Linked DNA regions of Homo sapiens. The protein of the gene in region 3 interacts with the protein of the main gene of each other region in a pairwise test. Each region holds a gene or a part of one and is shown on either strand. Other genes may lie near its edges. The genes, in order: MKNK1, PDPK1, PHAX and UBXN2A.

Region 1 (4,916 bases), on a different chromosome or scaffold from region 3:
TGTAATCTTTTTTTTTTTTTGAGACAGAGTCTCACTCTGTCGCCCAGGCTGGAGTGCAATGGCACAATTTCAGCTCACTGCAACCTCTGCCTTCTGGGTTCAAGCGATTCTCCTGCCTCAGCCTCCCAAATAGTTGGGATTACAGGCACCCACCACCATGCACAGCTAATTTTTGTATTTTTAGTAGAGATGGGGTTTCACCATGTTGGTCAGGCTGGTCTCGAACTTCTGACCTCAGGTGATCCACCTGCCTCGGCCTCCCAAAGTGCTGGGATTACAGGCGTGAGCCACACACCGGCCTCCTTGTGTAATCTCAATCAAGTCCTTTCCCCATCTATAAAATGAAAGTGGCGGAACCAGATGGTTGGTTTCCAAGCTCCTTCTACCTTCAACCATGTAAATTTTTCTCTGATCAAGAAATAACTTTCTCTTCCACATGCTGAGGCTGTTGGCAAGGGAAAATGTGCATTTATAGCTGCTGGTCCCCAGATGGGAGGAACCACTGTTTCCCAAGGCCAAGGGCAGAGTAAACTGATTAGAAAACCACCTGTGAGCTTTCCCCTGTTTGAACTGTACTATTAATACACCCAGTGCAGGTCTCTGAACACAGCATTACCTACCTTCCAACAAAACTCACGGTCAAGGCAAGACAAGAGCCTGAAAACAATGGCTGCAATGAAGAATGCCTGCTTGTGCAGAATTCTTGTACTTTCTTGTTTTTGATGCCTGTAATTAGGGCATCAGTCTAAACTGGGGCCCTCCTTAGGCACAAAGAGGAGGAAAAACACAAAGTCCCATTCTGAACCTGACAGCTCATAAAACAAGGGCCAAACCTAGTAAATAAAAAATGTCACTGACTCACTTAACCACAAACACTGAAGAGGCCTACTATGTGCTGGCCCTATGCTGGACAGAGGAGGAAGGAAAGAGACATGGTCCCTTGCCACCCACGTACTCAGAGTACATATGGAGTGTACATATCCCTAGGCAGACTATGATGAGAGCTATATTAGAGGGTCAGCCTTTGCTACAGAAGATGGAAAGGGGAACAACTAATCCAGCAGAAGGCTCAGAAAAGCTTCACCATGGAGGCCACATGAGATGTAAGAGATGTAAGCCTTGAAAGATGAGGAGGAGGAGGGAAATCCAGGAAGAGAGAATATAAGCAAAGGCTCGAGCAGGAACATGCAGGGAGTGTTTGAGAAACAGAGATTTGGCCGGGCACGTTGGCTCACATCTGTAGTACCAGCACTTTGGGAGGCCCAGGCAGGCGGATCACCTGAGGTCAGAAGTTTGAATCCAGCCTGGCCAACATGGCGAAACCCCGTCTCTACTAAAAATACAAAAATTAGCCGGGTGTGGTGGCTCATGCCTGTAATTCCAGCTACTCAGGAGGCTGAGGCAGGAGAATCACTTGAACCTGGGAAGTGGAGGTTGCAGTGAGCCGAGATTGTGCCACTGCACTCCAGCCTGGGTGACAAAGTGAGACTCCATCTCAAAAAAAAAGGAGAAACAGAGACAACTAGTTTATTTTGACTGAAGCACAGGTTGCAGGTTTGGGAAAACCAAGGGAAACAGGGAGGGGAGAGGTGTGGGAACAAATTGTGCAGGAACTTGTCTGAGGCTGGAGTCCAAACTCTACATCCAGCTTGTCCAACCCGCGGCCCTGGATGGCTCTGAATGTGGTCCAACACAAATTCATAAACGTTCTTAAAACACTGAGATTTTTTTGCAATTTTTTTAAAGCTCATCAGCTATTGTTAATGTTAGTGTATTTTATGTGTGGCCCAAGATGGTTCTTCTTCTTCCAATGTGGCCCAGGGAAGCCAAAAGATTGGACACCACTGCTCTATATAGTAGGCAATGATGCCCACCAAGGTTTCCGAGTAGTGTCTCAGGAAGAGCACAAGGGCACCCATGAAGAGGATGCAAAAGGAACTAAGTAATTCAATTACTCTGGGACCACATTACAGGAGACCACATGCACTTTCTAAGCACGTGCTGGGCTCTGACAGCTCCTGTTCACAGAGCTTCCCTCTCCCATGGCTTCGCTTCATGCAATCTGAGTTGCCATCCCCCACAACTGTCAACATCTGCAAAATACCAGAGTAACAGGACTCCTAACCAACTCTCTGGATTACAGAGAGAGAAGTGTTGAGGTGGGAGCAGATGGGCAGAGGGGGCACCAAAGCCTCTAGCTGGCTCAGTTCCATATAAAACCCAACCCTGGATTTCCTCTTCACATCACTTCCAGCCCAGCCCTCTAATGAAGGGCTGAAGCTAAGGAGAGTGGGCTGAAAGCACCTGGCTGATGGGTGGTGATCCAGTGAGACATTACACCTACTGTCCAGCATGTGCCTGGCGCATGGGCAGTGGTGCCCTTCCCATTCTGCAGGGTCAGTTCCATCTGTAAATCCCACTGAGGCTTCAAGGCCCAGGTCACAACAACTCTTCTCTCAGAGCCTTTCTAAAGTACCCCAATCCAAAATGACCAAGCTCCTAGAAATCACAGCTACCATGTATTCAGCACCCATTACATGACAGGCGCCATACTAGGTGACTTCCATATAATCCTATTCACCCTTCACAATGACCCTATTATGGCCATTTCCTAGGGAAGAAAGTGAAGCTCTGGGAGGGGAAGCAGACTTGCCCCAGGACACACAGCTAAGAGGTGGAAGAGATGAGATCTAAACCCAGGACTCCCTGACCCTGAAGTTGAGCACTTCTAACAACACTTCATTCCTGTGAGCCTGCCTGCCTCTGATCTGCCACTGTCAGGGAGCTTGGAGCTCTCTAGAAGACAGGGTGCACCTGACACTCTTATTACCTTTCCCTGTGGACAGCCATCCACACAGGCAGGAGCCTTTAAATACTGAAAATAAATGAAAACAATTAACTTAAAAATAACGCAGTACACAGATTTCACAAATTCCTCACGTGAAAAACTATTCATGATACTGGACTGCCTGAGCCCTGCGCCCAGCCATAGCCTCGGTCCTGATCCCTGGGAGAGACTGAGTCTCAAACGGGCCACAGAGTAAGCGCCATCTCGGACACCGGCCACGCCCCGACCCCAGGCACAGAGGTCGCAGACAGCTCGGGACAGTCCTGAAAAGCGTCCCCTTAGGCTGTCCCTCCGCAGCTGAATCGCGTCGTGACCTCGGGCAGCCGTGAAGGCCCTGACTGCCCCCTTCCGGGCACACGAGCTCACTCACAGACCCCGGCCCCATTTAGCTCGGAGGAATACCTCGCAGGTCTCGCTTTTACCTTCGCTGGCTCCCGCCGGGGAGCGGTCGCGCGCACCCCTACCTGCAGATCGCTCCTCCGAGAACGCGGAAGAGGCGGTGCTAGATCCAGGGGGTGGGCCCGATCAGAGAGGAGGGTGAGGGGGCGGAGCTGCGCCTGCGCCCTGATGGCTACCCAGGGCCGCCTGAGGGCAGGGGGCTCGAGCTGAGCGAACTGCGCAGGCGTGACAGGGAAGAGGCGGGGAGAGGGGAGATTGCTGGCAAGCGGGTGGGGCTTAGCTCCTCCGGCGCTTTCTTTTCCGAATGGAGGGTGGAGAAGCCCGGGAAGGTAGGAGGCCGGGCGCGACAGGTGTAATTAACATGTACTGAGAGCTTCTGCAGGCCAGGAAGGAATTTTAAAATGCCTTTTATATGTGGGGAAATGCTGCTAGTCTTTTCTAAAACGGGGGCCAATTCTGTACAATTTCTTTAAAAGTCTGAGTGCCTAGAATTTCACCATAAGAGTTTCTCCTTGAGTACAACATTATCCCCAGTATTTCAAAATTTTTAAAACTTTTAAAAGTTCATTTCTTGGGGAAAAACAACTGTAAATAGGTTAATGCCTCAACCAGTCTCCCCACATCCCCTTCCCAAGTCTGCAGCTGCGATGAGAAAGGATGAGAGTGTGGACTGGGATTTAATTCAGGCGCTGACTCCGAGTGATGGAGGTGAACATCCCTTCCCTGCCTGTCTCAGGATTATCGTGAGGATTTGGTAAGCCAAGCTAGTTAAAGAGCCCCAGGGACTTGCTTCCCATCATCCACCTGACAAACATTTGTTCCCTGTCTTGTCGGGGCTGTCTTTTCATCTGTATGATGGAAGGAGATTGGGAATATTAGTGAACATTCAGGACTTTGCTAGATTTCCCAATCTGGGTGAAGGCCGGAGAGGCGGAAGATCAAGCTTCTGTGTTCATTCCCTTCTGGAATCCTGCGGTCCAACCTGAGGGCCCCGATGTATCCTGACTTCTCCCACTCATTACCTTCCGTGGAGGCCGATCCAAGCTTCAAGTCTTCAGAGGCCCTGCTGGCCTGTTCCCTTCCCTGTTGCCTGTGGCAATAGCCCAAGAGATTCAGGACCTATGTTCCAGGTTCTCAAAGTTGCTATGTCCCTCACATGGCAATCAAATTCAGTTAACATCTTTGAGGGCTCTGGGGGTGCTCAGAGGAAGGAGGGCTCCCCCAAAGCAGGTGGAGCTCTAGTCATGACTGTGGCTTATTTCACCACATATTCCACAGCTTGCTGTGGGGTAGGGAGGAGAGGCAACAGGAAACCTCAGAGGCTGCAGTGTTTATGGGAGCCGAGGGTGATGCGGCATCCTTTACTCAATAGGTGGATGCTCTGCCCCAGGCTGGAGAGGATGGCTTACTACCTAGGTCCCTGCTCCAAATATTGTTTTGGAATTTTTTTTCTTTTTTTTTTTCTGAGACAAGGTCTCACTGTGTTCCCCAGGCTGGAGTGCAGTGGCACCAGCTTTGCTCACTGCAACCTCTGCTTGGGCTCAAGTGATCCTCCTGCTTCAGCCTCCTGAGTAGCTGGGATTACAGGCATGCACTACCATGACTGGCTAATTTTTGAATTTTTTTAGAGGCAGGGTTTTGCCATGTTGCCCAGGCTGGTCTCGAACTC
Region 2 (4,195 bases), on a different chromosome or scaffold from region 3:
ACAGAGAGAGCACACACACTCCGCCGGCAGCCGAAGGAGCTGCAGGATGGTGCTGAGAGTGGGAGCAGGCCAGAACGAAGCTCTAACACAGAAGAGCCGGGTGCTGGGGAGAGACGGGGAGGACAGGTGGGAGGACTCAGGCCCCTCCCCAGGCAGGATGGGGAGGCCACGACACTTGGGCCAGCTTGGAGGGTGGCGGGGGAGGAGAAGAGCAGATGCAGACTGCACCTGCTGGGGGTGACGACGGTGTGGCGTGGCCAGCCCAGCCACTGGCAGGCCCACAGGTCAGCTGGATGGGGCAGAGGTGGGGCCCACCCCAACTTCCACCGGGCCTTGCCTCCCAGATTCCTGAGCCAAGGTTTAATAACAGAAAAGATGGCGCTCTAGGGGAGCAAGGGACGCCGACCAAGCAAGCCGCAGCAGAGAGGACTGTGCTGGAGCCACATCGGTGGCTTCTCCGGGAGGTAACGTCCTGTGCAGACTCCCAGCCACACCCTGGCGCTGCCTCGGCTGCCTCCCTGAATGTCAGCGGCCTGAGGGACCCCACTCGGCAGGGAGCGGGGGCTGCTTGTGGGAACACACAGGGTCTGATTCCAAGTGAGAGGGGTGACTGGTGTGGCTTCAGACGGCACCAACCACGCAAAGGATACACAGCTTCTCGTCGTCCTGAAATGTGAAGTAAAGCTTAACAAAGAAGGGGTGATCCAGGCGCGACATGACATCCCGCTCTCTGGTTACATAGGGGACCTTGTTCTCTTTTATGATATGTCGCTTCTCCAGAATTTTAACTTCAGGTGAGAGAGAAGTGAGTTACTATCAGAAACAACAAAAAACACTAAAGACATGACTCACAAAGGTAACTGGTACAAATTAAAGTCTTTCAAACATTGTACACAACAGCCTGGTGGTCTCTAAAGCCAACAGTGTCCTGTACCCTGAAATCAGCACAGAAACACCGGCCCTGCCACCCCAGCCGCCCTGCACGGAGCCGCTTGCCCTGCTCCCGGACGCACAGCTCCCTGCAGCCCATACTCACTCGCATATTCTCTGGAGGTTGCCAGTTCTCGAGCCAGGACAACCTGGTTGGGAAAGAAAAGGAGAAAAAGAAACACACAATGTAATAACCAGGACACTGGGCCTGACGAGTCCCTCTGCCCCACACGCACGCTTCCTGTCCCCACTGAAGGCTTGAGTCTACAGTGAAATATTTTGGGTCTTGTACTGACAAGTAGAGCTAAAAGCCAATGCTCGTGTTGATGTGTTCTAACAGCTAAGAGAAAACATATCCATCTCTCTGTTGTTTCCAGAAGCTTCTGGATCAGCTGCTAACAGCCCTAACGGTGCAACACAAGTACAAACTCAGGAACCTCTTCGACTGCCACGCCCTTCACCAACAGAAGGAAGACAGTGGCGCCACCACAAGTGGCAGGGCACAGGGGCTTCTGTGACAACAATATGTCCTTCTAGTATACATTCATTGCAAAGGCTGCCCTGAAGTTTCGTTTTTGGAAATAACTGTTATCATACATTTTGTATGATGTTGCTTGTGGGCACCATGAAGAGAGCCTGGCTGTAAAGGACAGAGGGAGCTAAACCAGCAATGCATGGCCCTGCGTGCCCACAAGAGGGAGCCACCTGCCCGGGATGCAGCAGGCCTCCTGCCCTGTCCTCTCAGCACCCCTGAGCCCTGCACTCAAACCCCACCTCCGAGACAGAGCACTCCAGCAGGGCAGGCATCCCAAACAGGGGAGAGACCCTCCACTCGGACTAGCCTGGGGCACACCCTGAGGCACCAGACTGGAGATTCCTGGTGGGCCCACGGTTTAGCCAGAGAGCATGAGGCAGCTGTGCCAGGGAGGCCCCACCACCACCAAGTGGGACACAAGTGTCTCCTAAGACACCCACAGGGGGACGGCCTGAGGAGCAGGGAGCAGAGGAAACCTGTCCCGTGACATTCCTGGGGGCTGGCAGGAAGACCTTCAGGAGGCCACAGGGCCAGGTCCACCTGGCCCCGGGCTGTGAGCCGCAATCGGGGCAGGACTCCTGATGGGACACGTCAGAAGAGATCCTGGAAAGCACCATGTGAGACGCCTTGTGGCACTCAAGAAGAATGAAGTTGGATTCTGGGGACTCTACATACTCAAGGTCTTCCCAGAGGAATACGCCACGCATGGATGGCTCTCAGCTGCCAGGGAGAAAGGGGAAGTGGGCCGGGCAGGGCTCCCCTCTCTAGCTCATGTGTTTCTGTGAGGTCACGTTTCTCCACAAGAGCACGTGCTAGCTTCATAAGTAGAAAAGAGGAAGAAAGAATTGTGAACGAGCACCGATATTTAGTGGAACCCTTTCTAAGGGGATACTGATGTGATCTTTCCGTTGTCTAAACTCAACACTTCACAAGCAGGTTTCCTACAAGAAGGAAGGATCCTCTTCCAGAGAATGGCGCGTGACGTGTCCCTCCCTGGAGGTTGTGACCGTCCTCAGGGGGCCTCCCGGCTCTCCGGTGCTGCAGCTGGCTCTTGCCCAGCCTCCTATCACTGTCCTTTCCCCCTCCCCTGGAAATCAACTTTTATGTGATCTCCATTTCAGGAAAGCTGAGAAAGAACTGAGGGTAACACATGTAATCTGAGACCCAGTACTGTGGATTCCAAACAGCCCCATGGAGGAGCCTCCGGCTCACCGTGCTCTCCCGGGCACCTCCCTGGTGCAGGTTCAGAAAGACACGGACCACAGCCCCTGGAGGGACAGTGCCTGCTCTCCACCCATCTCCAGAACCCAGGGAAACAGGCAATTTCACAGATGAGTCTTCCTTTTTCAGTCAAGATAAATGTTAAGGGCCATGTATGGTGGCACATGCCTGTGGTCCCAGCTACTCAGGAGGCTAAGGCAGGAGGATCGCTTAAGCCCAGGTGGTGAAGGCTGCAGTGAGCTATGATCACACCGCTGCACTCCAGCCTAGGTGACAGAGCAAGACTCTGTTTCTAAAAGGATAAATACATACATAATAAAATAAAGTTAAATTAAAAAGAGACATACAAGGAAGTAAAACTGAGGCCAAGCACAGTGGCTCACGCCTGTAATCCCAACACTTTGCAAGGCTGAGGAGAGAATCACTCGAGCCTAGGAGTTCAAGACCAGTCTGGGCAACAAAGTGAGACCCTGTCTCTACAAAAAATTTTACAATTAGCTGGGCACGGTGGTGCATTCCTGTAACTGCAGCTACTTGGGAGGCTGAGGTAAGAGGATCACTTGAGCCCAGGAAGTCGAGGCTGCAGTGAGCTATGATCATGCCACTGCACTCAAGCCTGGGTGACAGAGCAAGACTCTGTCTCAAAAAACAGGTAAAGCTGAGAAAAGAGGAGGCCTGTTCTTTCACTGGGTGGTTGTAAGCAGCCATGCAGAATGCCCAAGGTTTTCCAAAGAGTTTCTTCTTTCTGAAAGGATCTGAGTCCCCAAAACTTTGGGGACTAGTCTCATGGTTGAAGGCATTTTTCATGAGGGCATAATCCTTTTATAAAAAAATTATTTCATAAAACCTGCAATTTAAAAAATCTAAAGTGTAAGGGCAGCAAAAGTTAACATTAATTAAAACAATATGTTGGGAATATGGGTAAGCTATATTTCATGTTTTTCTTTGCATTGTGAAATATTTCCTATGTGTAAAAAAGAGAAAAAAGGAAAATAAACCTCACCTACGGTTTCTTCACAAAGGTCAGGCAAGAAAGAATTATTCAGGAACTCACCCAGGCCCTCCAGAGTGAGGTGCCCCCAGGGCTCCCTGGAATGGCCCTAGCACGCACACGGCGGCCACCTTGGCGACCACAGTGGCGGCACGGGACTCTGTCTCTTTAGAGGCCCAGATGGAGACAGTACACCCCGAGTTGCTCAGGCCTCCCCTGAACCTGTTACAACCTTCACTAAATCCACAACCACACACGGCTTCATGGGTCCCACGTCAGCAAAACGTCCCATGTCAGCTGCTTTCGACCTTCATTTCTTTGCTTTCAGAGGAAAAAACACCCCGAAGACAGGTAACAAGTGTGACTTGACAGTACTGCGACAATACTCCTGTTTGTGAAACTCGGAACACAAGACTCTGGAGGCTGTGTCTCCAGCAAATGTCCAGAGCGTACTGTTTTATGTATTCAAAAAAACAAAACAGAGAAATAAGAAGAGGTCAATAAATGTCCCCAAAAAC
Region 3 (4,195 bases):
AATTTGTGGCTTTTAAATTGGCAAATTCCATGTGGAACTTAGAAAAGTAGGAACTTGATTGGTCTCAGATTTGTCTTTGAAGATCAGTTCCATTTTGGAATGGCAAAGTTGAATCTCTAAATTTTTAAAAATTAGGTAGGTGGAGTTTATGTGTTTTGTGAAATTGATTGTGTTTCTTTTCACTTGCAGAAAGTGCTAGGTGGCGACAGTGCTATGAGGGCCTTCCAGAACACGGCAACTGCATGTGCACCAGTATCACATTATCGAGCTGTTGAAAGTGTGGATTCAAGTGAAGAAAGTTTTTCTGATTCAGATGATGATAGCTGTCTTTGGAAACGCAAACGACAGAAATGTTTTAACCCTCCTCCCAAACCAGAGCCTTTTCAGTTTGGCCAGAGCAGTCAGAAACCACCTGTTGCTGGAGGAAAGAAGATTAACAACATATGGGGTGCTGTGCTGCAGGAACAGAATCAAGATGCAGTGGCCACTGAACTTGGTATCTTGGGAATGGAGGGCACTATTGACAGAAGCAGACAATCCGAGACCTACAATTATTTGCTTGCCAAGAAACTTAGGAAGGAATCTCAAGAGCATACAAAAGATCTAGACAAGGAACTAGATGAATATATGCATGGTGGCAAAAAAATGGGATCAAAGGAAGAGGAAAATGGGCAAGGTCATCTCAAAAGGAAACGACCTGTCAAAGACAGGCTAGGGAACAGACCAGAAATGAACTATAAAGGTCGATACGAGATCACAGCGGAAGATTCTCAAGAGAAAGTGGCTGATGAAATTTCATTCAGGTGAGCATTTGAATTACAAATAAGTACTTGACCAGATGGCTTCTATTTACAGGAAATAAAATGAATGCCAAATACTTTAATGATATGTTCCTTTTTTTTTTTTTTTTTTTGGAGACAGGGTCTTGCTCTGTCACCCAGGCTGGAGTGCAGTTACTCACTGCAACCTCCGCCTCCTCGCTCAAGGGATTCTCTTACCTCAGCCTCCTGAATAGCTGGGACCACAGGTATGCACCCCCACGCCCAGCTATTCTTTGTATTTTTAATAGAGACAGGGTCTTGCCATGTTGTCCAAGCTACTCTCGAACTCCAGAGCTCAAGGGATCCACCCGCCTTTGCCTCTCAAAGTGCTGAGATTACAGGCGTGAGCCATGGGCTGGCCTAATCTATTTATTTATTTATTTATTTGAGAAAGGATCTCACTCTTGCCCAGGCTGGAGTGCAGTGCTGCAATCACACCTCACTGGAACCTAGAACTCTTGGGCTGAAAGGATCCTTCCACCTCAGCTTCCTGAGTAACTGGGACTACAGGCTCAGGCCATTATGCCTGGCCAATTAAAAAAAAAAAATTATGGCCAGACAGAGTGGCTCATGCTTGTAATCCCAGCACTTTGGGAGGCTGAGGTGAGTGGATCATGAGGTCAGGAGTTCAAGACCAGCCTGGCCGACACAGTGAAACCCCATCTCTACTAAAAATACAAAAATTAGCTGGGCGTGGTAGTGGGCGCCTGTAATCCCAGCTACTCGGGAGGCTGAGGCAGGAGAATCACTTGAACCCGGGAGGCGGAGGTTGCAGTGAGCCGAGATTGTGCCACTGCACTCCAGCCTGGGTGACAGAACTAGACTCCATCTCAGAAAAAAAAAAAAATTAGGAGTTTCACTGTGTTGCCCAGGCTGGTGTCAAACTCCTGGGAACAAGCAGTCCTCCCACATTGGCCTCCCAAAGTGCTGGGATTATATGCATCAACCACTGCGCTGTCCACAGATTTTTTTTTTTTTTTAAGAGATGGTCTTGCTCTGGTCACTCAGCTGGAGTGCAGTAGCACAATCAGAGCTCATTGAAGCTGAACTCCTGGGCTTAAGCAATCCTCCTGCCTCAACTTCCCAGATTGCTGGGATTATAGGTGTGAGCCACTGTACCTGAGTCTTTGAAAATTTTTCTTTAAGGAACTGGGATAATTTGGTTATATGAATACATTCGTAATGTATTTTTCTGTTGGTTTTTTGTTTATGAGACAGTCTTGCTCTGTCACCCAGGCTGGAGTGCAGTGGTGGTATCCTGGCTCACTGCAACGTCCCCTCATGAGAATTGCTTGAACGTGAGAGAGCCACCTGAGTAGCTGGGACTATAGGCATTCGCCACCACACCCAAATAATTTTTTTTTTTTTGTATTTTTAGTAGAGATAGGGTTTCATTATGTTGGCCGGACTGATCTCGATCTCCTGGCCTCAAGTGATTTGCCTGCCTTGGCCTCCCAAATGCTGGGATTATAGGCGTGAGCTGCGCACCCACTGTGTTTTCTTAAATTTGGACAAGCCTGATAGAATAATTTTGTAGACTTTTATGAACTGTTAAACAACTTGTTGCATTTAGTGCCATAGAGCTTTTTAAATAAAGCATATATTTTTAAATCATGGGTTGTTTTTGTTTGTTTAGTGTTTTCAAGAATTTGTGACTTTTTTCTTAACTTTGAGGTATATTTTACAGATAATATTCACCCATTTCTAGTGTTAATTTTTTTAGGAAACATATCAAGTTGTATAACCATCACCTCTGAAACATTTCTGTCACCCAGTAAGATCCCTTATGTCCACATGCCAGTTTATAGTTAATCCCTGTTCTCATTCCCAGATAACTGCTAATCTACTTTCTGTCTATAAATTTGCCTTTTTTGGATATTTCATATAAATGGTGTCATGTAGTATGTAATCTCGTGCCTTGCTTCTGTCAGCTAATGTTATGTTTTTGTTTGTTTTTGTTTTTGTTTTTTTGTGTGTGTGGTTTGTTTTTTTGATTGTTTGTTTGTTTGTTTGAGACAGAGTGTCACTCTGTTGCCCAGGCTGGAGTGCAGTGTCACGATCTCAGCTCACTGCAACCTCCGCCTCCTGGGTTCAAGCAATTCTCATGCCTCAGCCTCGTGAGTAGCTGGAATTACAGCCATGTGCTACAACGCCCAGCTAATTTTTATATTTTTTAGTAGAGACAGGGTTTCGCCATGTTGGCCAGGCTGGTCTCGAACTCCAGACCACCTCAGCCTCCCAAAGTGGTGGGATTAGAGGCGTAAGCCACTGTGCCCAGCCAATGTTGTGTTTTTGAGATTGATCCATGGTGTAGCAGGAATCAATACATTTTTATAGTGTGTGTATATATGCATATATTCATATTGAATATTCTACTTTTTGGCTATCATGAATAATGCTGTTATGAACCTTCACATCCAGATCTTTAAACACATATTTTCATATCTTTGTTTTCTTTTGTTTTGTTTTAGACAGAGTCTCACTCTGTTGCCCAGGATGGAGTGCAGTGGCATGATCTCAGCTCACTGCAACCTCCGCCTCCTGGGTTCAATCAAATCTCCTGCCTCAGCCTCCCTAGTAGCCGGGATTAGAGGCGTGCGCCACCACGCCCAGATAATTTTTTTTTTGTATTTTTAGTAGAGACAGGGTTTCACCTTGTTGACCAGGCTGGTCTCAAACTTCTAACCTCAGATGATCCACCCCCTTCGACCTCCCAAAGTGTTGGGATTACAGGCATGAGCCACCTCACCTGGCCATATTTTCATTTCTTTCAGGTAAATACCCAGAAGTAGAATTGCTTGGTGTATGGTAAATTTACAATTCATGTATTTTTACCAAGTTCAGATTTTGAATTAACATTTTCATTAGCTCTAAATTACTAATGAACAGTGTCATAAATTTGAAAACAGATACGGTTCAAGAGTAATGCAGGTGGTAGGAAAACAAGTATTTACTTTCCAGGCAAGCCTATCTGAACACCAGTACTTGATTTTTAAAATACTGGGGAAGTTTGGAATTTGAGTGCTGGAAAGAAACTTAGAGATGTTGTAAACCAAAACCTTCATTTCACAGATTAATATTAGACCTGGAGTTAAACCCTGATCCTTGTGTTCCTAGTCTATTTCTCTTTCCACAAAAATGCACTGCCTCCTGTTGAGAAGAAACAAAGGGTGCCAGGTCTGAATTCTTTTTTTTTTTTTTTTTTTTTTTTTTTGAGACGGAGTTTCACTCTCGTTGCCCAGGCTGGAGTGCAGTGGTGCCATCTTGGCTCACTGCAACCTCTGCCTCAGCCTCAGGGTTCAAGCAATTCTCCTGCCTCAGCCTCCCAAGTAGCTGGGATTATAGGCATGTGCCACCACACCCAGCTAATTTTG
Region 4 (4,195 bases), on a different chromosome or scaffold from region 3:
CTCTACTCCAGCCTGGGTGACAGAGTGAGACCTTGCCTCAAAAAAAAAAAAAAACTGTCTAGACATAATTATGTTTAGAGAACTATTTATTAAAATGTTTGGCCAGGCTGGTCGAGGTGGCTCACTCCTGTAATCCTAGCACTTTGGGAGGCCAAAGCGGGCAGATCACTTGAGGTCAGAAGTTTGAGACCACCCTGGCCAAACTCCTGGTGAAACCCCGTCTCTACTAAAAATACAAAAATTAGCCGGGCTTGGTGGTGCAAACCTGTAATCCCAGCTACATTGGACGCTGAGGCAGGACAATCACTTGAAGCTGGGAGGCAGAGGTTGCAGTGAGCTGAGATCGTGCCACTACACTCCAGCCTGGGCAACAGAGCGAGACTCCGACTCAAAAAAATAAATAAATAAATAAAATGCTTGGCAGGATGCGATGGCTCATGCCTGTAATCCCAGCACTTTGGCAGGCTAAGGCAGGACGATGAATTCAGTCCAGGAGTTTGAGACCAGTGTGGGCAACACAGTGAGACTCCCTTTCTACAAAACAATTTTTAAAATTAGCTGGCAATAAATAAAAATTAAAAAAAAAAAGTTAGCTGGGCATGGTGGCATGTGGCTGTAGTTCTACAACTCAGGAGGCTGAGGTGGGAGGATTGCTTGAATCCAGGACTTCAAGACTGCAGTGAGCTATGACTGTGCCACTGCACTCTGGCCTGGGCAACAAAGAAAGATTCTATCTCTAAAAAATAAACTGTTGACTGAACCAAAAAGAAAAAATGAAATTTTAACTTGGTGAAAAAATATCAAATACTGAAATTGAAGACTCACCTATGAGTAATGTTAAATTTCTGGACAATCCTTTTTCCATTGGCCAACCAGATCTGTATATTAGTAATGGGTTCCAAGTTGTTCAGTGGAACAGCAGACAAATTATTTTTATTTTCAACTTCAATATTCTTTGCTTTAGAAACAATTTTTGGTGTGGCACTAAGGAAATCCAGACAACAAAGTTAGACGTTTTTTCCATTCAATAAAACTTTATTATTAAATAATTACTATAAAAATATTATAGCAAGTATAACTTTAAGGAAGATTTTTTAAGTTATATGTGTTTCTTCAGTAATAACAGAAAGATATATTATTTATGTCCACAATATATGATGGTTCTAAGAATCTGATGAAGTTATACATATCTGAGTAATTTGTAAGCTACATATATTATTACTGGTATTATTTGAGTAGTGCTTTACAGAATGGATAATTTTAAAGAAGGTTCATAGATCTATGGACTTTACCTTTACCTACTGCCCAGGTTAAATTTCTAGAAGAAATTATAAGTTCTTTATTGAGCTTAGTCCTTAGGTTATAATGAAAAAGAAACTAAATAAAGTACTTCCTGATCATTCTGAAGGATGCATCCAGATATATTTGTATGTGTGGATGAATATGTATGCACCTTACCAATCTTGATAATTTAAAATATGAGAATTTATAAAAATCAAAGAGCTCTCATATCTATATAATCTCTCTGCATATTCTGTTAGATAGGATGGAAACTGTAAAACTTGAAAATAATTTAAGGCTTTGATACTGACACTGATTTTCATTTTTATTACCTCAAAATTCATACATAGATCACAGAACAAAATGTTGCAGACAGTGGTAACCATAAAAGAGAACAATAGGCTGGGTGCGGTGGCTCACACCTGTAATCCCAGCACTTTGGGAGGCCGAGGTGGGTGGATCACCTGCGGTCAGGAGTTCAAGACCAGCCTGGCCAACATGGCGAAACCCTGTCTCTACTAAAAATACAAAAATTGGCTGGGCGTGGTGGTGTATGCCTGTAATCCCAGCTACTAGAGGGGCTGAGGCAGGAGGATTGCTTGAACCAGGGAGGCAGAAGTTGCAGTGAGCCAAGATCATGCCACTGCACTCCAGCCTGGGCAACAAAGTGAGGCTCTGTCTCAAAAAAAAGAGAACAATAATATTCAAAAGCTAGTACATGTACTCTACAGTGGTGAGTGCAAGGGACACAAAAGAACTTAACTATTGAATTCTGTCCTTAATAAGCCAAGCCCTTTTGATTTGAAAAAAAGAAAAACAAAAAAGCCTGCATGATTTTTTACTGTATTGCTGGCATTTCTTTTTTTTTGAGACAGAGTTTCACTCTTGTTGCCCAGACTGGAGAGCAATGGCGCGATCTCGGCTCACCGCAATCTCTGCCTCCCAGGTTCAAGCGATTCTCCTGCCTCAGCCTCCCGAGGAGCTGGGATTACAGACACATGCCACCACGCCTGGCTAATTTTTTGTATTTTTAGTAGAGACGGGGTTTCTCCATGTTGGTCAGGCTGGTCTCGAACTCCCGATCTCAGGTGATCCGCCCACCTTGGCCTCCCAAAGTGCTGGGATTACAGGCATGAGCCACTATGCCTGGCCAGGCATTGTTAATATATACTTAGGTAACTATGACTTATGTGTCCTCATAAAAATTAACATTAAAAAAAATCTGATTTCCAATGGGAGAAATGATAAGCTCCATTCATGTGGTCTACATGGGTAAAATACTGATAGACAGAATATTAGTTAAGCCTTGATCTATGCAAAACAAGACAATAGGCATATTTACCTTCCTAGTCTGTGACCCTGTCCTGAAAAGGGCTGGAACACAGGCTTCGTAGACAAACATATTTCATTTTTCTTGTCTTCAACTTTAACGTCCACCTCTTCTTTATCAAAAATTCCCTGTAATTCTGAAGGTAATTCCCTTGGAAAACAAAGAAAGAAAATGATAAAGCTCCCAATGTATTTTATTTCTCTGAAAAACATTCTGTACATACAAAAAATGAATATGTAGAAATATACAGAAATATATAATATTCTATACAATGAAATAACTAAATGTATTCAAAACAATGTAGTTAAATAATATGAATACCAAAAACCCACAGGAATATAATTTTTAAGACCATAAGCTCATGAACAGCATCAGTTTTTATTATTTTTTATTGTGAAAGCATATATTTTTTAAATTTTCTGTAGAGACAGGGTCTTGTCCAGGCTGGTCTTGAACTCCTGGGCTCAAGCAATCTTCCTCCCTCAGACTCCCAAAGTGCTGGGATTATAGGCGTGAACCACTGCCCCCCAACCAGCATGAGTTTTATAGCAGTACCTAAAATAGTACTAAAGTCATGAAATACTTGATGACTATATACTACACCAGGCTTGTCCAATCTGTGGCCTAGGACGGCTTTAAATGTGGCCCAACAAAAATTTGTAAACTTTTTTTTTTTTTTGAGACGGAGTCTTGCTCTGTCGCCCAGGCTGGACTGCAGTGGCACGATCTCGGCCCACTGCAAGCTCCGCCTCCCGGGTTCACGCCATTCTCCTGCCTCAGCCTCCTAAGTAGCTGGGACTACAGGCGCCTGCCACCACGCCCAGTTAATTTTTTTTTTTTTGGTATTTTTAGTAGAGATGGAGTTTCATCGTGTTAGCCAGGATGGTCTCGATCTCCTGACCTTGTGTTCTGCCCGCCTCAGCCTCCCAAAGTGCTGGGATTACAGGTGTGAGCCACCGTGCCTGGAAAACTTTCTTAAAACATTATGAGATTTATGAGACTTTTTTGCAATTTTTTTAAAGCTTATCAGCTATCGTCAGTATTAGTGTATTTTAGTATTTTATGTGTGCCCCAAGACCATTCTTCTTCCAATGTGGCCCAGGGAAGCCAAAAGACTGGATATCTCTGTTAAATAAATAATTTGAGTTTCTTGTTTTTGGGACAGGGTCTCATTCTGTTTCCCAGGCTGGAGTGCAGTGGTGCAATCATGGCTCCCTGCAGCCTTGACCTCCTGGGCTGAAGCGATCCTCCTGCCTCAGACTCCTGAGTAGCGGGGACTATAGGCCACCATGCCCGGCTAATTTTTGTATTTTTTGTAAAGATGGGGTTTCACCATGTTGCCCAGGCTGGTCCTGAGCTCCTAGGCTCAAGTGATCTGCCCACCTCAGCCTCCCAAAGTGTTGGGATTACAGGTGTGAGCCACCACGCCCGGCCAAAGGACAAATTTTAACAAATTCTAATAAAGTAGTTGATTTATTCTGAAAACGGAAATAATACAAATTCATTTAGTATATATTTATGATTTCTGCACTTTTCTATTTTTTTTTTTTTTTTTTTTTTTTTTTTTTTAGATAGGAGCTCACT

The links.
Region 1: the proteins of PHAX (region 3) and MKNK1 interact in a two-hybrid assay, tested with the Homo sapiens proteins (one large-scale study listed by BioGRID and IntAct).
Region 2: the proteins of PHAX (region 3) and PDPK1 interact in a two-hybrid assay, tested with the Homo sapiens proteins (one large-scale study listed by BioGRID and IntAct).
Region 4: the proteins of PHAX (region 3) and UBXN2A interact in a two-hybrid assay, tested with the Homo sapiens proteins (one large-scale study listed by BioGRID and IntAct).

What each region holds. Positions count from the first base shown.
Region 1 is NC_000001.11:46,600,915-46,605,830, forward strand, and holds the start of MKNK1 (MAP kinase-interacting serine/threonine-protein kinase 1), read right to left. Parts: upstream 3,355-4,916; 5' UTR 3,271-3,354; exon of another isoform or gene 3,251-3,270; intron 2,874-3,250; exon of another isoform or gene 2,831-2,873; intron 1,238-2,830; exon of another isoform or gene 621-1,237; intron 1-620. UniProt on the Homo sapiens protein: May play a role in the response to environmental stress and cytokines. Appears to regulate translation by phosphorylating EIF4E, thus increasing the affinity of this protein for the 7-methylguanosine-containing mRNA cap.
Region 2 is NC_000016.10:2,558,364-2,562,558, reverse strand, and holds part of PDPK1 (3-phosphoinositide-dependent protein kinase 1), read right to left. Parts: exon of another isoform or gene 1,080-4,195; coding exon 1,037-1,079; intron 814-1,036; exon of another isoform or gene 789-813; coding exon 651-788; intron 1-650. UniProt on the Homo sapiens protein: Serine/threonine kinase which acts as a master kinase, phosphorylating and activating a subgroup of the AGC family of protein kinases.
Region 3 is NC_000005.10:126,603,381-126,607,575, forward strand, and holds part of PHAX (phosphorylated adapter RNA export protein), read left to right. Parts: intron 1-189; coding exon 190-803; intron 804-4,195. UniProt on the Homo sapiens protein: A phosphoprotein adapter involved in the XPO1-mediated U snRNA export from the nucleus.
Region 4 is NC_000002.12:23,981,462-23,985,656, reverse strand, and holds part of UBXN2A (UBX domain-containing protein 2A), read right to left. Parts: intron 2,762-4,195; coding exon 2,624-2,761; intron 985-2,623; coding exon 826-984; intron 1-825. UniProt on the Homo sapiens protein: Acts to repress the ubiquitination and subsequent endoplasmic reticulum-associated degradation of CHRNA3 by the STUB1-VCP-UBXN2A complex in cortical neurons.